2 separate regions of the Homo sapiens genome follow, and region 2 is linked to region 1. Evidence: fine-mapped expression QTL. A gene starts in region 1. The other region holds a variant in brackets. All regions are shown on one strand. Distances are from middle to middle. Region 1 holds the start of ROGDI (rogdi atypical leucine zipper). Region 2 holds the start of GLYR1 (glyoxylate reductase 1 homolog).

The links. PIP is the estimated chance that this variant, and not a neighbour inherited with it, causes the effect.
Region 2: its variant is fine-mapped to the expression of ROGDI in whole blood (INTERVAL, PIP above 0.99).

Annotation. Positions count from the first base shown.
Region 1 is chr16:4,798,740-4,809,632 of GRCh38, forward strand. It overlaps ROGDI (rogdi atypical leucine zipper), which reads right to left and starts at 3,894. Exons shown (of 11, transcript NM_024589.3): 1 at 3,788-3,894; 2 at 3,643-3,714; 3 at 2,764-2,846; 4 at 2,528-2,582; 5 at 1,759-1,839; 6 at 947-1,042. The coding sequence starts at 3,832. It overlaps GLYR1 (glyoxylate reductase 1 homolog), which reads right to left. Exons shown (of 16, transcript NM_032569.4): 16 at 4,464-6,571. The coding sequence ends at 6,497. RefSeq lists enhancers at 3,402-3,902, 5,949-6,243 and silencers at 3,408-3,467, 3,508-4,297, 4,190-4,401.
Region 2 is chr16:4,842,454-4,853,452 of GRCh38, forward strand. GLYR1 (glyoxylate reductase 1 homolog) reads right to left here and starts at 4,835. Exons shown (of 16, transcript NM_032569.4): 1 at 4,775-4,835; 2 at 3,721-3,757; 3 at 2,621-2,700. The coding sequence starts at 4,812. UBN1 (ubinuclein 1) reads left to right here and starts at 5,028. Exons shown (of 18, transcript NM_001079514.3): 1 at 5,028-5,757; 2 at 10,426-10,713. The coding sequence starts at 10,465. RefSeq lists enhancers at 4,279-4,338, 4,639-4,698, 4,994-5,836, 9,417-10,616 and silencers at 4,889-5,608, 5,619-5,708. The variant T/G (reference allele first, on the strand shown) is at 4,878.

The sequences.
Region 1 (10,893 bases):
CTCCCACTCCCACCCAGCCCAGTGGCTACTGTTCCCAGGTCCCGAAACCCGGCAGCAGGGACCTGTTAAAGACAGGTAGTTGGGCTCCAGCTGGGTATGGAGGAGGGCAGGATGTCTGCACTAATGTCAGTCGGGATGGGGCTGATTCACTGCACGGGGATCCTGGGTGCTGGATCAATGGGGAATGGAAGGTCCTGGGAGGTCAGTCCCAGGGGCACAGGCTTTGTGGACAGGGGTACAGGCAACAAAGGTTGGTTGTAAAGGGCCAGAGAGGGCTTCCTGGAAGAGGCGATGGATGACTGGGTTGAGGTTTTCAGGGGGGTAAGCCAGGGTCACGGCTGATGGATGGTGGGACCACCTGGAGCCCATTCCTTCCCTTTGCCGTGGAGCAGAGCCCTGGCAGACTCCTCAGAGCCCCAGCTTTCGTGCCATTCAGCCGTGGCCATGAGTACCAGGGTGATGTGGCTCCCAGGAAACACGTAAGAGCTGACTGGGGGTATAGGGCCTGTAGCACCCTAGGGTGGTTACAGTTCTCGAAGGGATCTTAGTCTATCTGGTTCTAAGTGTGAGGAAACAGAGGTCCAGAGAGGGCAGGTGAACCACCGGAGGACACACAGCAAGTCAGGGGCAGAACTCAAGCATGAGGTCAGGTGCCCAGGTCAGCTCTTCACATGTGCCACGCGGTTAATGTGAAGGCTTTCACTGCTGCTACCGGCAGTGGTGTGTGCCGAGTGCTTACTGGGGGCCCCGTGACCTGAATTATTATGGTGAACAGTCACTCCAGCTTGCCCCTGACCCCACAGGTAGAAATGGAGACACAGAGTCGGCAGGTAAGTGCTTACAGGTTGCACAGCTCAACGTGGAGGCCCTGGGATTGGAACCCAGGTGTGATTCCGGATCAAGAACGTGGGACTAGGCCCAGGAGTCAGGCCCGGGGGCAGCTCACCTTGAGGACCTCAGCGCCCGTCTTGAACTGGTAGCTCTGGTCCCGGCTGGTAAGCAGGTAAATGGCTTGGCTCACATGGTTTCTGGCATCCTGGATCTGGAAGCAGGGGTCATCCAGAGGGGTCACGCCAGCTTCCATGCGGCCAGGAGGGGAGAGTGGGTGCTGCCTGCCTGCCCCACGTCATTCCACTCTCCACACTGTCATCCCTGTGCCCCAGAGGGCCAGGTCCACGCCAGGTGATGGGCATCTGGCATCACCTGGGGCAGGCCTGGTCTCTGCCCAAGCTGACTGCCCCCTCCTTTCTAAGGGATGGACACACAGTAATGCCCAAGACAAGAGTCTGTGCGAGTTGCGGAGGGAAGCAAACAGGGCGACAAGGCAGGGGCAAGGGTGCTGAGATGGAGACAGTCGGGGTGGAGGGGGCAGGGGAGGAGGCTGGGGCCCATTGGTACAGGAGCTGCCAGGGAGCATGGGCCTCATCCCCAGAGCCATGGCAAGTCCCTGGAGGCTCTGGGCAAGGGAGTGACTTTTCAGAGGGCTTCTGAACCATCTCATCCAGCCAGCTGCTGTGGGGACTCCACAGTCCCGATGTGGCCCTCGGGGCTCTCAGGCCAGGTTCTCTACCTCCCCACATGGCGCAGCCTCCAGGGCTTCAGGAAACGCCTGCCCCCAGCTTTGCTGTTAGGAAACACCCTCCCAGGCTTGCTGTGGCCACAGATCCCCAGGGCTAGTCCCTCTCCAGGGAGGCCCCGCGGCAGGCCTGCTGCCGCCTGTCCTTGTGGCTGAGCACTAGCCAGGAGGGGCGGGGTCACCTGCTGCAGCTTCCACTGCTTGTCCTCCCGGAAGGCGAAGTGCAGCAGCTGGTTGTTCCGGGGCATCTTCAGGTTCACATCCTGACAGGCAAGAGTGGGGTGAGCTGGGCAGTGGGGGGGCACCTCCTGCCACAGCCACTCTGAGCCCTTAAGCCCAGGGCAGAAATGGGGTGTGTGGTGGTTCAGGCCTTGGCCGCTGTATAGGGCAGAGGGTCTCCCAATGCCTTGGCCGTTTGGGGGTTGAACAGGGAGGTCAGGAAACAGGAAACCAGGCCCAAGAAGAGCCACAAAGAAGTGAAATGGAAAGAGGTGAAGAAAGGGGAAGGGGAAGAGGAAAGGCAGCCTCTGTGAGGCTCTGTGCGAACGGGGTGCATCTAGTGTCTACAAAGGGCAACAGATGGAGCCCAGGAGGGGGGCCTCCCCCCACGCCTTGGTGCCTGGCACAGAGTCGGGTGCAGACTGGAGTTCAGGCATTGGCTGATTCAACTGTGATGTGTGGCCAGCCTAATCCACCAATGCCCATGTTTCACTGGTCCGGACGCCAGGCCAGGCCGTGTGCAAAGAACCCCTCTCCTGCACCTCTTACTGAATCTGCACACCGATCCCGGGAGAAGGTGTGAGGGTTGCTGTCATTTTCCAAAGGAGAAAACTGAGGCCAGAGAGATCAAGGGTCCCGCCCAGAGTCGCAGGGCTTGTACAGAGAGAAAGTGGGAGCTCCCATGCTCTTCCCCATTGGCAGGATGGGAGGGGACAGGGCCGGGGGACTCACCGCCTGGCTGAGGGCATCCCCCTGCAGAGTCAGCACACCCTTCACCTGGTCTGTGCTGTAACATGTGGCGTCAGAGCGGTGCCTGTGGTCACCCCCCCACCACCCAGCCCTCCCTCCCGGCGGGCTGCCCCTCCTGTCCCATCGCACAACCAGCTGGTCTGCAGGACAGGGCTATGGCCATGCCTCCTACCCCCCAAGGTACCCATTTCCCCGGTTTCCGCCTAGCCCAGGCTCACCCACAGCTGCCTAGGATGAAGTTCTCTTGCTTGGCGGGCCCCTCAGTGCCGGAGCCCGGCAGAGTGAAGCGCAGAGAGGCCTCCTGTGGAACAGAGGGAAGGAGGGGAGCTGGTAGCGCCCACTCAGGCCCGGCCCAGTGCTCCTTCCAGAAGCCCCCCTCCCTCCAAGTCAGCGGGGGGAAGGAACAACGTGGCCTGGCCTCACCTGGGTTCAGCTGGGGTGGGAAGACCCTGCCCAAGCCCCCAGGGCACCTAACCGTGAGCCCGATCTCTGCTTATACCACATTCCCTGAACACCTCCTGTGTGCCCGCCTCGGGGAATACAAAACAGACAGGGGCAGCCTCCCAGCTTGGTTGAGGGGGAAAGGGGCAAGGGGCAGAGTCAGGGAACAAGGCAGTAGTTATGGTAACCCGCGGTCCTGGGCCACAGCAAGCACTACGCCGGTTACTTCTGTGAGCTGCCTGGCTCATTTATCTACACCCCAGCCTCGCGAAGCGGGTACTGTTATCTCCCTTTTGCCAATGAGAAAAGGGAGGCCCAGGGAGGTTCAGTGACTTGGCTGAAGTCACACTGCCAGGCAGAGGCAGAATTCTTCGGCTCCCAGATTGGATGCCGCTGCTCCCAAGGCGGCCTTCCCCGACCCGAGGCCGGGCGGGACTCAGGCCCTTGCTAGCACCCTCGTCGGGACCCGCCCCTGCCCGCACACAGGTACTTATATAATGAGGTCGGCTCGAGTTCGCGGAGGCGGGGCCCTGCCTGAAAGCCGCGGCAGCCGCACACTGTAGGCGCTCAGGACGCAGCCGCGCGGCCCCAGGTGGAGCCAGGGAAATGAGGAGGGAGGGCCGCCACGCCCGGCGGGGCAGGGCGCGGGTCGTTACCTTGAGGATGTCCTGCAGCTGCTTCAACACAGCGTGCACCTCGTCGTGCAGCAGCCAGCGGAACTCCTCCTCCTGCGGGACAGACCCGGCGGTCGCGCCCGGCCCCGCCGCCCCGCCGGCCCGCCCGCTGGCCCGCGCGCCTTACCAGCACCGCCCGCTCCGCCGCCGTCGCTGCCATCACGGTGGCCATGGCCGCAGGCCGCCGCCGAGCGCCCTCCCCACCGGCCGCTGCTCCTGTCCACCAATCTTTCTGTCCTCGGTCCTCCGGTCCTCCCGTCCGCCCCCGGCGTCTGGCTCCGCCCCCACCCGATTGGCGGAGCGGGTACCACCCCGCCCCCAGGCCGGCTCCGTGCTCGCGATTGGCTGGCGCCTGTCGGTCCGCCTCGGCCCCCGAAACCTGCGGGAGCCCTGGAACCAGACTGGCGGCTGCGGGAGTGAGGCTCGCTCCGCCTGGCCAGGGACGCGGCCGGCGGCTGCACGAGTCAGGCTTGCTCCGGCTGGCCAGGGACGCGGCCGGCACCAGCCTGGGGCGCCCGCTTGGGGGCGGAGCTCCCGGGGCGCCCCCAGGATATGATAGGGCGCTCTGCTCCACTCGCGCTCACTCATTGGCCGGCAGGACAGTCTGTCCCCGCTCCTCCTCCCTATTGGCCCGCTTGGCTCCATTGGTCGTGGTTCCAACCCTGCCGCGGACCTCGCCGCCACTCCCAAGTCCGTCTCACCCCGGACGCGGAGGTCCCGAAAACCCACCCCGGCCCCGCCGCTGCCTTCTCCTCCCACCCATCTCGCCGAGGACGAGGGAAGCAGGACTCCTGCGGCACAGCTGTGTTACCAAGAAGTGTTTTATTTTTCTTGCAGTAGCTTTGTTAATTGCACAAAATCATGTTTTGTTTTTGCCATTTAAACATTATCACACAATCCTATTCTGAAAGACAAATGTTCATTAAAAACAAAGCAAAAATAAAAATTCACAACCTTAATTACCTAGATTTGTCATTTAAAGGTTTAAAGAAAAAAGGGAGGGGCTTTCTTACAAGCTTTTTCACAAGTGTCACATTTTCTCCTTAAAAGGGAAGGATTTCAAAAGAAAGGTGAAATAGCTTAAACAGAAATATTCATAAAAAGGAACTTTACAGAATTGTCAACAATATTAAGACAAAATTGACTAACCGGTTTCATTACCGCATCTTCCCCCGCCCCCACCCCCAGTGTGTTCCGCCAGGACTAGAACAGGCTTTGTGTTCAGACAGAAATGCTTCAAAATCCCAGTGAAATGAACTGTGCTAAAAACCCGACAGGCATCTTCCCTGCCCTCCCCCCACTCGTCTTCTGCAATCCTCTAACCCAGTTTCTAATCTCTGAAAGGGGCCAAAGCTGTGAGGGGGGAAGGACCCCGCCCTAGTGTGGCCACCCTATATATAATTACATATTGCATCGTAAATGCTGGCCTTCCTTCTGCAAATTATGATTTTGGAAAATCCAACCCATGCAGAGGGATAAAAAACTGACATCCCTTGGGTAACTTTTTTTTTTGCAACATTCCAAGCCCCCCCCGGTCCCCTATCCAAGGACAAATGTAGGGCCTCTAGGATGTCCCAGACCCACCTCGGAGGGCCAGTCAGTTCAGGTAGGTCAGGCCCAGTTCTCTTCCCTCCCGACAGACCCCGGGCCCGGGAAGCACCGAAGACCATGATGCTGGCTGGAGTGAAGACACTCGTTTCCGTATCAAGAGCTGAGCCTAAGAAATGCTCATCGTTGGTCAGGCTGGGTCTGGGCCAAAGGGACAGACAGAAAGAAATACTGTCTCCACGGGAGGAAGAGGGAGAGGAGGGAGGATGGAGAGCGGTGGGCATGCAGGGGACTTGGCAGGGCAGGGTGGAGAAGGTGGGACCACTGGGAGGGGACCGAGGTAAGAGTGGCTCTTCAGAGCCAGGTGAAGAGTCTGTGGCCTAACGGAAACAGAAAGGAGCGCCCCCAACCCCCACTCCTCTTGGCTCATCACTAGTGGCCCTGAGGACTCCCTCCCAAGGGATGGAATGCAAATCCAAATACTAAAACAGCCTAGGGAGGAGCGAGCGCCCGCTGTGGCAGTGGCATCTGGGGCATGGCTTCGAGGCGGTGAGGGCCGGGCCTCCATGCTCACCTGCAGGCCGGCTGCTTGCTGCACTCCCTGGAAAGCCAGGGCCCCATCTTCTCGGGACTCTGCCAGTCTCTTTTCAGTTCACAAAGGCGTCTATGGAGCGCTGGGTGCACACTGGACGCTTAGACGTGAACATCTTTCTCAGCTCATCACCTGAGGTTGGAGGGCCCCAAGGGCCCCTCTGTCTGGAGTCTGTACTGGCTCATCTGGGCCCAAGGCCTCTCCTTGTAGGGAATCCAGTGGGGGATGGGGACATGACTACAGCCTCTTCGCTCTGGGGGAAGCTGTGGGAAGGCTTCCAACTCTCGTTGCTGATTCTAGTTCCTTGACTGGAAGGGGTTTGAGATAAGACAAGCTCGGAAGAAAAAAAGCCAGGCAGCAGTTTCTGGGCAGCTTCTATCCTGGGGCGAGAGCCTGTGTGTGTGTGTGTGTGTGTGTGTGTGTGTGTGTGTGAACACACAGCCACCTCGTCCGGGGGGCCAGTGCCCAGCTCAAGAGCTTTCCCACACGCCAATCCTGCTGACACTTGTCCCCTCCCCACCGGCCTCAGGGGAAGGGTGCTGCTGTGTGCTGTGCTGATGGCAAGTCTCAAAGTCTGTATAAAAGGAAATGGAGATAGGTGGGCTGGTCCAGAATGAACTCCCAGGCCCCCGACCCCATGTGAGGAAGAGGGGGTCAGAGGGGGGATTGGAGGGGTGAGGGCGGGGTGTCGACAGCTTAGTGTATGTAGGCTCGGTACACGGCGGACATATCGTTGTCAGACTGGTCCAGCGCCTTGGCTCTTTTGTACACCTGGAAAAAAAAGAGATGGCTCAGTCTCTGGCCCCAGAGCTGCCTTCAAGACCTAGACCTGATTCCTGGAGGCAGTGGTGGATGTGGCCAGCAGGCAGTGCTGGAGCCCAGGCTGTCCGGTTAGGAATCCTGTGTTGACCTTGCATGAAGCACCTCCGTTTCTCTGGACCTCAGCCACTGTGCTTCTTGCTCTGGGAGAAGGAACAGTACCCGGGGGATCTTGTGAGAATGAAATACACTATGGGATATAAAACATTCAGCATTGGCCGGGCACTGCGGCTCATGCCTGTAAGGCCGAGGTGGGTGGATCACCTGAAGTCAGGAGTTCGAGACCAGCCAGGCCAAAAAGGTGAAACCTCATCTCTACTAAAAATACAAAAATTAGGGCCAGGCGCAGTGGCTCATGCCTGTAATCCCAGCACTTTAGGAGGCCAAGGTGGGTGAATCACGAGGTCAGGAGATCAAGACCAGCCTGGTGACCGTCGTGAAACCCCTTCTTTAAAAAAAAAAAATACAAAAAATTAGCCGGGCATGGTGGCAGGTGCCTGTAATCCCAGCTACTCAGGAGGTTGAGGCAGGAGAATAGCTTGAACCTGGGAGGCGGAGGTTGCAGTGAGCTGAGATCACACCACTGCACTCCAGTCTGGGTGACAGAGCGAGACTCTGTCTCAAAAACAAAAAAAGAGCAAAACTGTCTCAAATAAATAAATAAATGAATAAAAAATAAAACAAGGGCAGATGAAACACCCAGGACACCTATACCTCAGAGTGAGAGTTCTCACACCTGTGGTGCTTCTGCCCCCAGGGGACATCTGGTAATATCTGGAGACATTTTCTGTCACCTGAGGAGGAGCTATGTCACTGGCGTCTGGTGGGTGGGCTACCCAACATCCTGCAGTGCTTGGATAGCCCCCCCACACAGAATGGCAGCAGTGCCGAGGTTGAGAAACCCTGCCTTAAAGGATGAGGGAGAGGAAGGGGGAAAGAAATGCTTCTGTGTGGTTGCAAAGTTTTTACATTTAATGGGAAATGGTACAAGATTAACTGTCTTTTTTTTTTTTCTTGAGACAGGGTCTTGCTCTGTTGCCCAGGCTGGAGTGCAGTGGTAGGATCATGGCTCATTGCAGCCTCGAACTCCTGGGCTCAAGCAATCCTCCTGCCTCACCTGCCTCAGCCTCCCAAGTAGCTAGGAATAGGGTGCTCGCCACCACGCCCAGCTAGTTTTTTATTTTTTTTTGTACAGATGGGGGTCTTGCTATGTTGCCCAGGCTGGTCTCAAACTCCTGGGCTTGCTTAAGCCTCGACCCTGCCTCGACCCTGCCTCGACCTCCCAAAGTGCTAGGATTACAAGGATCACAAGTATAAGCCACTGTGCCTGGCAAGATTAACTCTATCTTAAGGATTTATACCGCAATCTGTAGAGTAACCACTAAAAAAAGAATGCAGAGGCAAAGTAAAAAAGAAAATAGATAAATGAAACTGGAATTCTTTTTTCTTTTTTTTTTTTTTGAGATGGAGTCTTGCTCTGTCGCCCAGACTGGAGTGCAGTGGTGTGATCTCGGCTCACTGCCAGCTCTGCTCTGCCTCCCGGGTTCACGCCATTCTCCTGCTTCAGCCTCCCGAGTAGCTGGGACTACAGGCGCCCGCCACCACGCCTGGCTAATTTTTTGTATTTTTAGTAGAGACAGGGTTTCACCCTGTTAGCCAGGATGGTCTTGATCTCCTGACCTCGTGATCCACCCGCCTCGGCCTCCCAAAGTGCTGGGATTACAGGCGTGAGCCACTGCGCCTGGCCCCTTTTTTTTTTTTTTTTTTTTTTGAGACGGAGTCTTGGTCTGTCGCCCAGGCTGGAGTGCAATGGCACGATCTCGGCTCACTGCAACCTCCGCCTCCTGGGTTCAAGTGATTCTCCTGTCCCAGCCTCCGGAGTAGCTGGCATTAATAGTGCCCGCCACTATGCCCGGCTAATTTTTGGTATTTTTAGTAGAGACTGGGCTTCACTATATTGGCCAGGCTGATCTCGAACTCCTGACCTCAGGTGATCTGCCCGCCTCAGCCTCCCAAAGTGTTGAGATTATAGGTGTCAGCCACCGTGCCCAGCTGAAACTGGAATTCTAAAAAGAAAGTAAGAAAGGAGGAACAAACAAAAGACAAAGACAACGAACAGAAATCAAATGATAAAATGGCAGCCCCAAATTGAACCACATATCAATACAACTACTAAAGGTCAATGCACCAGTTAACCTTCAGAACCTAACCTCTGAACTCCTAACAGTATAGAGTCTAAGCTCATACCATCCAAACGACCTGAAAGCAGCGAGCTGCATTGAGAAATTAACCTAAAAACTCTGCTTCCAAGCCAATGAATCCTGTAGTCAGGGTGGAGGCAACTTGGAAGTCACTTCAAAGAGAAGCTTTCCCAGCCCAAGCCACATGAAACCCTTGGGAAATAACTATAGTCAGAAATGAGCTTTCATCAAAAAAGACTTATAAAATACACAACGAATTCTACTATCCAGAGAGAATCCACTGGTAGAATGAACAGGGGGGACTTGAAATAGTAATGTAATCTGAAAGAGTCATGAAATAAGTACTCTGAAATGTTGAAACAGACAAGAGACAGAAGACAGAATTTAGGAACAAGGCTGCATGCGGTGGCTCATGCCTGTAATCCCAGCACTTTGGGAGGCCAAGGCAGGCGGATTACTTGAGGCCAGGAGTTCGAGTCCAGCCTGGTCAAAATGGTAAAACCCTGTCTCTACTACAAATACAAAAATTAGCCAAGTGTGGCGGTGCATGCCTGCGGTTCCAGCTACTTGGGAGGCTGAGGCAGGAGAATCACTTTAACCCAAGAGGTGGGGGCTGCAGTGAACTGAGATCATGTCACTGCACTCCAGCCTGGGCAACAGAGTGAGACTCTGTCTCAAAAAAAAAAAAAAAAAAAAATACAATTCAGGAACAGAGAATTATACTATGAAAAGCCAGGTGTCAAAAGAACAGTACTGGCTGGGTGCCATGGCTCACGCCTGTAATCCCAGCACTTAGGTAGGCTGAGGTGGGTGGATCACCTGAGGTCAGGAGTTTGAGACCAACCTGGCCAACATGGTGAAACCGTATCTCTACTAAAAATACAAAAAGTTAGCCAGGAGTACTGGCAGGCACCTGTAATCCCAGCTACTGTGGAGGCTGAGGCAGGAGAATCACTTGAACCCAGGAGGCAGAGGTTGCAGTGAGCCGAGATTACACCATTGCACTCCAGCTTGGGCAACAAGGGTGAAACTCGGTCTCTAAAATAAAATAAAATAAAATAAAATAACATAAAATAAAAGTGTATCAGCTGATAGTACTTTAAAAATACAGCTGCTGTTTCACAAAGTGTCATTTTTATTATAATAATATGGTAAAGACAAATGTTTTTCAGTTGTTTTTTTTTTAGATTCAAATTCTATGAAGATGAGCTAAGAAAGCGGAACTTCTACCCTAAAAAGCTTTTCGAAAGTGTATGTGAAGTTGGATACAGTTGTGCACGCCTATAGTCCCAGCTACTCGGGAGGCTGAGGTGGGAGGATTGCTTGAGCCTAGGAAGTCAAGGCTGCAGTGAGCTATAATTGTGCCACTGCACTTTACCTGGGCAAGAGAGTGAGACTGTGTCTCAAATATAAAAAAAGTGCACGTGTTAAGTGCTTAAAACATCATTTGAAAAATGCTAATAGACATGCTAATTAAAAGGCAGATACTGTCAAAATGGATAAAAATCCAAACCCCAATTACATACTGTCTATCAAAGCCATAATTTAGACATAAATAAGAGAGGAAATGGATGGAAAAATATACATACCATGAAAACAATAAGCCTGAGAAGGCTGTAGCAGCTTTCGTTTTTTTTTTTTTTTTTTTGCGATGGAGTCTCACTCTGTTGCCCAGGCTGGAGTGCAGTGGTGCGATCTAGGCTCACTGCAACCTCCCGCCTCCCAGGTTCAAGCAATTCTCTGCCTCAGCCTCCTGAGTAGCTGAGATTAAAGGTGCCTGCCACCATGCCCAGCTAATTTTTTGTATTTTTAGTAGAGATAGGGGTTTCAACATCTTGGTCAGGAGAATGAGACCATCCTGGCTAACACAGTGGAACCCCGTCTTTACTAAAAATACAAAAAATTAGCCAGGCATGGTGGCAGGCGCCTGCAGTCCCAGCTACTCAGGAGGGTGAGGCAGGAGAATGGAGTGAACCCGGGAGACGAAGCTTGCAGTGAGCCGAGATCGTGCCACTGTACTCCAGCTTGGGTGACAGAGCGAAACTCCGTCTCAAAAAAAAAAAAAAAAAAAAT
Region 2 (10,999 bases), 44 kb after region 1:
ATCCTCCTGCCTTAGCCTTCTGCATACCTGGGACTACACTTGTGTGCCACCATGCCTGGCTATTGAAAAAAAAAATTTATTTTTTTAAGTAGAGACAAGGTCTTGCTATGTTGTCCAGGCTGGTCTCCGGCTCCTGGGCTCAAGCAATCCTCCTGTCTTGGCCTCCCAAAGTGCTGGGATTACAGGCATGAGCCACTGTGCCCAGCCTAGAATTAACAATTATCTGCCATCATTCATTCTGCACATAATCTTTATTTATTTTTTGAGACAGAGTCTCGCTCTGTCACCCAGACTGGAGTGCAGTGGCGCGATCTCAGCTCACTGCAACCTCCGCATCCCAGGTTCAACCAATTCTACTGCCTCAGCTTCCTGAGTAGCTGGGATTATAGGTGTGCACCACCACACCCGACTAATTTTTGTATTTTTAGTAGAGACAGGGTTTCACCATGTTGGCCAGGCTGTTCTCAAATTCCTGGCGTTAAGCAATCTGCCTGCCCCGGCCTCCCAAAGTGCTGGGGTTACAGGCATGAGCCACCATGCCCGACCATCATTGTGCACATCATCTTATCTGAAATGTTTACAACTTGTCACTTGACTGAGCATCTGGAAGGTGGGAACTATAATACTTGCTTTCTTATAAATTCCCTCAGTGTCAAGCAATTCAGAAAGTGGACACATAACACTGATGTTATGCATGAGGACAATCTTTCCTGTTTTTCTTTTTCTTTTCTGAGACATAGTCTCAGTCTGTCACCCATGCTGGAGTGCAGGGTCTCGAACAATCTCTGCCTCCTGGGTTCAGGCAATTCTCGAGCCTCAGCCTCCCAAGTAGCTGGGATTACAGGTAGACGCCAACACTCCTGGCTAATTTTTGTATTTTTTGTAGAGACGGGGTTTTGCCATGTTGGCCAGGATGGTCTCGAACTCATGACCTCCAGTGATCCACCCACCTTGGCCTCCCAAAGTACTGGGATTGCAGGCCTGAGGCACCATGCCCGGCCAAATCTTCTTTTTAAATCCATGGAGTTCTAAGAACATTCCCTCTTCCAGAAGCTCTGGCTCCACAGCTCCAGGCCAGCGATCTCCTTGAAATACTGCCACCACAGGCTGCTAAGCTGGCTTGTGATAGAGAAATGGGGCTGGGTCTATCTGTAAACATGAAACCAGGAAGAGCATCTGACATATAAACTCCTGGATGAGTGAAGAATACTGTTTATAATATATCGCTTTCTAAGTAGAAATACTTTAACCGTCAGAATTAGATTTACCAGAGAAGCCACAGACATTTTTTTCAAATCTAAGGCTGTATTTTCCTATAAGAATAATAAATAGAAATACAACTACTTAAAGAAATCAAACCGGCTGGGCATGGTGGCTCTTGCCTGTAATCCCAGCACTTTGGGAGGCTGAGGGGGTTGGGGGGGGGAGGGGCAGATGACTTGAGGTCAGGAGTTTGAGACCAGCCTGGCCAACATGGTGAAACCCCGTCTCTACTAAAAAATATAAAACAATTAGCCGGGTGTGGTGGTGTGCGCCTGTAGTCCCAGCTACTCGGGAGGCTCAGGCACCAGAATCACTTGTACCCGAGAGGTGGAGGTTGCAGTGAGCTGAGATCATGCCACTGCACTCCAGCCTGGGTGACAGAGTGAAACTCCATCTCAAAAAAAAAAAAAAAAAAAAATCAAACCATCTAGCTAGACCCAGGTAAGCCACTTGACATAGTGATAAAAAGCTAAACAAATCACTAGCAACTCAAGTTAATACAGGTTCTTCACGTTCTTCCCGTCACTGTAACATGTTATATGGTCAGAGTCTCAGATTAATGGTCCTGGTTTCCCCAACTTAGGACAGATCTGGTAAAAAGACTTACTATAACAATGTCAAAGCAAATCACTTAGTTTTACACATGAGAACATGATTGAACAATTACTTTTATTAACATAAATAAAAGTTTCCACTGTATACCCCAAGCATGAACCATAATGATATATGGCATTAAAAGAGAACTGAACATGGCTTTTATAAAAATAATTGCCAGCTGGGCGCAGTGGCTCACGCCTATAATCCAGCACTTTGGGAGGCCAAGGCAGGTGGATTGCTTGAGTCCAGGAGTTCAAGAACATCCTGGGCAACATGGTAAAACCCCCTCTACAAAAAATTAGCTGGGCATGGTGGTGCACACCTGTGGTCCCAGCTACTCGGGAGGCTGAGGTGAGAGAACCGCTTGAGTCAGTGAGGCAGAGGTTGCGGTGAACTGAGACTGCCTCTGCACTCCAGGCTGGGTGACAGACTAAGTCTCTGTCTCAAAAACAAACAAAAAGGAACTGCCTTTGGAGTTGGGTAAAGAAACATGTGAGAAACTGTTTCAATGTGATTGTTATAGTTAGAAGGTAAATGAACCTAGTTCTTGCCTGACTTAGTTATAGACCTAGGACAGTTGTCTAGGGCAATTTCTGCAAGAAATTGCACCTTTATTTAGGTATGAAGGCAGAATGAGATGCCAGTATTACACATTATAAGAAGACTGAACTAAGGATCCTTAGAATATTTTCAAAGCAGCTCAGACTCCAGGTAACACAGAAAGAAAGGCGAAGGGAGACTCCTGGTGAGTACTACTCACTGATCTTCTGTTCCAAAAAATTTCACAAAGAAGCATTTCTTTCCGCGAGGTTTCTTCAAGTCCTTTGGTGGATTAACAATCTGGAGGATAAAAGGGGGGAAAAAGGTTGGCTGGCAACACAGCAGCCCACTTTCTAGTGGCTCCACATTGCTCTACAGTTCTACGTTGCTAAGAAAAAAGTAAATTAAAAGGACTTACTTACAAATAAATTTATTTATATACAAAACAGAACCCAAGGCCTAGTACTTGTCTAAATCTCCCATTTTTCTATTGAGGTGTATGGAAATGTGTAGATATTCTAGAAGTTCCCAATATTTAACATGTAGCACAGTGCTCAGTAGACACAATATCCCTTTTACTGCAGTGGCCCTGTTTTACAAGCAGTTAAAACTAAGATCAACAGCATCCCCTGCCCCCCACCACCCCACCCCTGCTCCAATGTGACCCCATTATTACTGAAAAAATGCAGACGACACTCTTTGAAATACTTCCTGTGCAGGAAGGGTTGACACAGGACATAGTGAAAACAAAGGACAACCGAGGCACAGAAAACACCATATTGCAAAGAGACCATCTAAAGACACCTCCCGGGCTCCAAGCAAGAATATAAAAACACAACATTTGGAAAGCAATGATGGATCACCTCATGCAAAATCTGGAATGCCAACTTCTGCAAAGAGGCACTGGAGTAGCACATATGGTAACATGGAAAGAAGATTTAAACTTAGTTGGGACAAAAATACTTTGGCTTTTCACTAACCTACATTTAGACTTTCTTCCTGGATAATTTATATTTTCTTCTCCTTTTGTTACATTTAAGCATAAAGCTAAATTCAGACTAGAATTATTTCCGGGGTTAAAAAAGAAACTTCATAAACCTCCTCTAAATCCAGAAATAAGGGTTTAGAGAAGATTTAATGATCTGGTGTATACTGCATTGCCTTTTAAAAAATAACCGATACTAGGGGAAAAAAAATTCTAAGTGCCATCTGAATGAGCCCAATTTAACTCAATACTAGAAACTGAGAGGAATGCATCTTACATTCTCCACCTCTTCAAACCCAACTTCAGATCTCTTCCTTTAGTAGCAAGACACTCACCTTTCCTGGCCAAGGAGGATATCGGCCGAGTTTCCCCCTAGAGAAAACACAAAGAGTCAACACTTGCCCTGCAAAAGCCAGTCCATCTCCTTCAACCCACTCAATACGCAATTTATTTTCCTAAATCTCTGCTGGCATCCTCAAATGCCGAAACAAAAGCTTTCATAGCTGGGCCCAACACCCTCAGAAGTAAAATGCAAAATTGTATACTTATGTGCACAACGCATATCCATTCTTCTGTTGACAAGGAATACAGAACAACACAACTGTCAAAAGTCACTTGTCTAGAGCTTCTTAATGACGGGGGTGGGAGGACAGCTTCCTCTGTAAACACAGACTTTCCCTCCCTAAGTCTGGTTTAATTCAACAGGAGACCTGCCTGGCTTTGACAAATGCTAATGGAAGCCTTCCTCTGGGTGGAGAAACAAGCTACGCAGCTCGAGGGAGGCGGCGACAAAGTCTTGGTTCGGGCGGTTGTCTGGGACACAGAAGCAGACCGCGGGAGGCACCCAAGCGTGCACTGGTCACTGCCAAGCCATCGGTTGTAAAGGAGAAGTCCCCCCGCCGTTTCTTCGCGGGGCAACGCCAGCAGTCCGGTTTAGACAACCCCGGCTGAGCCGGCCGCACAGGTCGGCTGCATCGCAACCTGGGCTTTGACCGAATGGCACCGGCCAGATCTCGCAGGTCCGGTCCCCGGCGCTTCTGCTTTCTGGGAAGCCCCAACAAGACCCCGGGGACCGGTCGTCCGGGGAAGCCTCGCGGCACCGGCGGCTCCCTTCACGGGGGCCGCCAGTATCTGGGCCCCGAGTGCAGACCCCACCCGGCCGGCCTCGGGGATCAAAGCCGGTGCCCGACGTGGCCACCCTCGGCCTCGGTCCCCCGGGACTGGACTGCCCCTTCCGCCTGGCGCCGCTCGCAAGCGCCGGCACCTTCTCTTCCCCTCTCTCCGCGACCTGGAGCGCATAAAAAGGCAGCTCCAGGGCCGGCAGCGAACCCCGCGCCCAGGCGGGTAGCTCCCCGGCGCGTCTCGGTTGGCCCGGCCGCTCGGACTCACCACACCAAGTCGCCGAGCCGCAGACTCACAGCCGCCATCTTACCACCCAACCACCGCCGACGCACGGGCCGCCGGGAACAGCAAGTCGCCCCGGCGCCGCCCA[T/G]TGGAGTGGGCCCGACCACGTGACGGGGGCCGGCTGTCACTGGCCACGCCGCTACTCTGACGTCACCGCGCCCGCCGGGGATCATTGGTCGACCGAGGGGCACGTGACGCGAGCGCCGCGGTCTCCGCGCGCCGGAGCGCAGAGACTCCCGGCTCCTTCCCCCTCCCTTCGGCTCGTGACAACGAAGCGCCCGCGGTCTGAGGCGGCGGCGGCGGCGACGGTGCGACCGGCTGAGCGCGAGAGGGAGCCGGCCTCGCGGCTCGCCCCGCCCCCGGGTCTTGGACTCCGCGCCCCTCCCCTCTCGGCGCTTCCGTTACGCCCGTTGGTCCGGCGCGGGCCCCGGGGCCATTCCCGAGCCCGAGGCGCTGGTCGGCCCCGTCGCAGCGCCAGTGAGCTACCCTGACGGAGCTCGGCGCGGCCTGGAACTCAGCCTCCGCCGGGTCTGGGCTCCCGCGCCCGGCAACTCTGCTTGGCCGCAGGCCGGGAGGCCCCGGTGTCCGCGCCCGTCCGCTCCCGCCGCCCGTGTTCTTTGGAGCGCTCCTCCCGACGGCCGCTTTCGGAGGCGCCGTCTGAGCGCGGGGTCCCGCGCCGCAAGTTCTCCTGGGGCGACCGGAGGCTGCTCCCCCGACCCCCTGGTGTCCCCGGAGTGGCTGCGCGGACGTCGAGTTGGCATTTCTTCGCTTCCTCCTGGGCCGGCGCGCGGCGCGGCACACCAGGCTCCCCTGGGCTCGGGGACCCGGCCATGGGCCGAGGCGCGGGCCGCCCGCCCGCTGGGAGCCACGGCTTAGCAGCCGACCGCTAGCTGCGCCGCCGCCCGGGGACCGGCATGAGGACCGCCGCGGGGGGACGTCTGCGGCCCGCGTCGGCGCTGGGGACAAAGGTGCGTGTCGTTGTCGGGTCCGGGCTCTCTCGTTAGCCTTGCCCTAGTTTTGCACTTTTGAAAAAGTTGTGACAACAGGAAGACAGATGCCGGGCGTAGTTTGGACACTTTAAAACTGAACCATGAACTGGGAAGTGTTAACTGCAGTTGAGCGCAGCGTCGGCCCAAACTTCAGCAGACCAGGTAGAATCACAATTTTGCAAAAGATCCCAGTCCCGATCACAGACTCCACAGTGTTAAGGATTGACTTAGACTTGGTGTCGGGCTCTTGTTGAGTCACTGCCAGCTGGCAAAGGTGGCGAGTCGACACGCATTTCCCCAAGGCATTGTGGTGGTTAGAGATTTCGGTTGCAAGTCGGTGTTTAGCGTACTGGGTCGTCCCGCAGCCTGATTTTTCTTGGGAGATCAGTTTCCCTGAAGTACCAAGAATTAGCTGCACGGACTGTCATTTACTGCGTGTGTATTTTTAAGACAAAGTGATCTTTAAAGCGTATTTAAGATTCCAGGGAATAATTTGATAAAAATTTAACATAAGTTCCTGTTTAAAAATTCTGAATTTGTGAGGAATTGAATGAGATTTTAATAACTTAAATAAAAACATGAATCTTGGCCGGGCAGGGTGGTATAAGCCTGTAATCCCAGCATTTTGGGATGCCGAGGCGGGTGGACCACCTGAGATCAGGAGTTCGAGACCAGCCTGGCCAACACGGTCAAACCCAGTACTCTACTAAAAATACAAAATTAGCCGGGCGTGGTGGCGCATGCCTGTAGTCCCAGCTACTTGGGAGGCTGAGGCAGGAGAATCGCTTAACCCGGGAAGCGGAGGTTGCCGTGAGCCGAGATTATGTCACTGCACTCCAGCTAGGCGACAGAGCGAGCGAGACTCGTCCCCCCGCCAAAAAGAAAAAAGAAAAAAAAATCTCAAATGAACATTGCACCAAAACCTAGAGGCATTCCCCTTAACATCAGAAACATGGTACATTTCTACCACTATTAGATAATAAGAATATATTGCCTAAAACCTGAAAGTTCTAGCCAGTGCAGTAAGACAGGAAACAAAAATAAGAAATGCAATTTTTGGAAAAGGGAAGACAGAATTCTCATTTCCGTGGATGATAGGTCTGCCTATTTTGAAAACAAAAACAAAAACCAAAAAACCCATTAAAATAAGAATTCAGGAAGGGTACTCATTATAAGTTGGAATGCACAATTTAGTTTTTCTGTTTCATCAATAACCAGTTTGAAAATACAATGTTTAGAAGGAGATATATATATATATAGTAAGAAAAAATTAAAAATTGCTGAGGATAACCAAGGGACAAGGAAGGCTAGTATTTTCTCAGTAACACCAACTGAGGTTTTTAAAGGGGGATCTTTGTTTTTTTCTTTTTTTTGTTTGAGACGGAGTTTCACTCTTGTCGCCCAGGCTGGAGTGCAGTGGCAGGATCACGGCTCACTGCAGCCTGGACCTTCCCAGTCTAAAGCCATCCTCCCACCTCAGCCTCCTTAGTAGCCAAGACTACAGGGGTGTGCCACCATACCTGGCTAATTTAAAAAAAATTTTTTTGTGCAGATGAAGTCTCATCATGTTGTCCAGGCTGGTCTTAAACTCCTAGGCTCCAGCGATCATCCTGCCTTAGCCTCCCAAAGTGCTGGGTCCGGGAAGTTGAGGCTGCAGTGAGCTCTCATGGTGCCACTGCACTCCAGCCTGGGCAACAGGAGTGAGGCAACTGTCTCACAAAAAAAAAAAAAAAAACCACAAAAAAAGCTAAAATCTTTCCAAGGACTTAGGCAACTCTCGTAAGTCTAATAGATAAATGTAAGTTTTTTTTAAGCATTCAAACATGTTTGAACTTAATTATATTTTCTTAAGCATTTTGAATTATGATTGTAAGTCTAACGTACCATTGTTAAATATATTGGATTCTCTTAAATGTTTCAAATGGCTTAGTAACAGCAGAACATTATAATGATTATAAAACAACCCCAAATCTAAGTGGTAATAGAGTACAGATTTGACTCACTTTATCCTGTAGTCCTATTTTTTACCTTCTTGGGCCTGGAGAGTCACTTAAGCAACTGAAAGGAGCAGTTTTGCCATCTAGGATTGAAGCTGCAGTCTCTCAGACTTGGACTGAGATAAGGTTATGTGTTTACTGCCTGGACAGGGGGAGTAGGACCTGGTTGCCAATTCAAGGATGACCTTCCTGCATCCCATTGGTTAACTTGCTGATTCCCTTCTTATAGTGAGACTGTTCCGGTTCTATCAGTGGGGGAATCTGTAAGCCTTCAGCTGGGATTTATTTCCACAACCCAGCGCATCACAAATATCCTGAGGGCCTTGGAGATTTCTTTTAGGGAAATCTCCTTTAACATCTTAGTACGTGTTGGGAGATGGTCTTTTGCAGCGCCAGCCTGTTACACTGCTAATCGTTTTGCCGCCTGATTAGAATTATTTTAACTCTTCATTTGTAGATATTTTGTTCCCTTATGTGATGTTATAAGTTGATTTTGTGATCATAATTCGACAAATGAATATTGGATATATACAAATACGTCTACATGTATGTGGATATATACGATATATGCTAATTTTCCTGAATTAACTCACATTTGTGATTGATTTACAACCAAAATACAGTGAGTTTTTTTGAAACCTGCCAAAATAATACATAGGCTGGAATGGCAAAGTATTATTTATAAAGAAGGATAATAAACATGAGCTTTAACTTTGCAACATTAAAGTATGAAACTTTACAAAACAGTGCAATACTGATTAAAGAATCTCTAAATACCGTATTAATATGACACATGGACTTCAGAAACAGGCCTTAGATATCTGTGATGTTGCTTTGCAATATATGCCAAATCAGCAGAGGAAGGAAGGATTGTTTAGTGATTGATGCTGGAAGAAACCAAGTTACAGCCTCTCCTCATACTTTATAGCATAGCAAATTCATCTGGGGTTAATGAAGTAAATGTGAAAAAATATCTATAAATGACCATATAGGCTGGGCTCAGTGGCTCACACCTGTAATCCCAGCAGGAGTTCAAAACCAGTCTGGGCAACATGGCAAAACAACGTCCCTACAAAAAATACAAAAATTAGCACGCCTGTAGTTCCAACTACTAGGGAGGCTGAGGTAGGAGGATCGCTTTAGCTTGGGAGGTTGAGGCCTCAGTGAGCTGAGATTGAGTCACTTTATTCCAGCCTGGGCAACAGAGTGAGACCTTGTCTCAAAAAACAAAAAACCTATATACACAAGTTCTTCTATAAGATCTGGTTGGAGACGAACATTCTAGGCATAAAAGAAATGGGAGGAGTCTCAAAGGAAAAGAGCCTAGTTTTAACTGCATACAAAGTTATAATTTCCTTGGAAGGAGGGTCGCTTGAGGTTGTGAGCTTAAGACCAGCCTGGGCAACATAGTGGGTCAGCATCTCTACAAAAAATAGAAAAAATTAGCCAGGCATGGTGGGATATACCTGTAGTCTCAGCTCCTCGAGAGGTTGAAGTGGTGAGAGGTTTGCTTGAGCCTGGGAGGTTGAGGCTGAAGTGGCTGTGATTGGGCCACTGCTCTCTAGCCTGGATATAACAGCGAGACCCTAGCTCAAAAAAAAAAGAAAAAAGTTAACATTTCTTTCATCATACCTCACTCTAAGCAACACTAAACAGCAAATAACAAAACAAGAAGAAGTACTTATAAGAGATATGACAGATTTTGTATATCTATAATGTATAATAATTTATGTATAATATCAAGAGCGCTTACAAGTCAATAAGAAAGTCACAATTTATTCAACCATTCCCTGATTGATTGTCATTTGATTGTCATTTTGGTTGCTTCCATCATTTTTCTTGTATAAACAAGGCTGCAATGAATATCTTTATTTATTGGTATGGTAGAAAGTTCACACTAGAATATGAACTCTTTTAAAAAGCAGGACACAAAATTGTATACGAAGTAAGCAGAAAACATGTATGGCATGTATTAGCATATTCATATTCTGTGAACATTTGGAATTCTGTATTCAAAATCTATTTTGACCATTCCCAAGTGATTTTGAAGGTCTTTGGCATGTCATAATTTGTTATTTTGTCAAGGCCAGTGTTTGGGTGTGAGAGTGGTGCACAGGGCAGGAGTGTGTAACTTTGTTAGGAAGTGAGCCTAGCCACACCCTCCTGAGTCACTGGTTCTTTACTATCCTGGGGTAGGCAATATCTTTTGTTCAGCTGATAAAAGCTTTGTCATTGTGAAGATTGGCTCCCAATGATAGGAAACTGCTGGTGATGAAAATAAAGGGGTCTTAAAGATTATTCTCAGCCAGAAAAAATAAGTGTTAGACAAATTAAATGGAAAATAATTAATATTTTAGTAGTCTTTACAATTTGGAGGTCTAAGGCTCTGTCAGCATGGGTTCTTTAAGGTCAAGGATCTAGGATACACATGCACAGGAAAAAAGACTGGAAGTATGCTAAGCAGTGACTATCTCTGAATGATTGTGAAAAAATTTTAGGATGAATAAGCAGAAAAAAACAATAAATGACAAAATATAACAATGGAGTTTTCTTGACAATGAAATTCTCTTAAACTTAAATCTCTTTAATTAGGCAGGTAAACTATTTTATCATCTTCGTTTGACCTGGCCCTTCTTTTCAATGTTAACAGAAGCCATGCAGTGACACCCGCTAAGACTTGTTGGTAGCCATGTCGGAGCCCCACAGGGTCCAGTTCACCTCTCTCCCAGGTTCCCTGAATCCTGCGTTTTTGAAGAAGTCCCGGAAGGAGGAGGCTGGGGCAGGAGAACAGCATCAGGACTGTGAGCCGGCTGCAGCAGCTGTTCGGATTACACTCACCCTCTTTGAACCAGATCACAAACGCTGCCCAGAGTTCTTCTACCCAGAGCTGGTGAAGAATATCCGAGGGAAGGTAAAAGGCCTTCAGCCTGGAGATAAGGTACACCCCTTTGTTCCCAGAGGCGCTGCAGGTTTAACGCACAGGGGTCAGTGCATGCATGTGGGGCTTCCGTAGCGGGGAAGCAAGACTTAACTGAGGTTTTGGCTGCCCCAAGATCCTGTCACTCACTCAAGGCAAGCACAAGATTTGCTTCTCTTACCTCTGTGCGCAAAGGGAGAGGCCAATTTGAATTATGACTAATTAACATAAATTTTAAAAACAATACATTTTTCTCTGCCAAGGTTATAAACGTTATGTGTAAATGAAACCAGTCCCTGACAGTTCC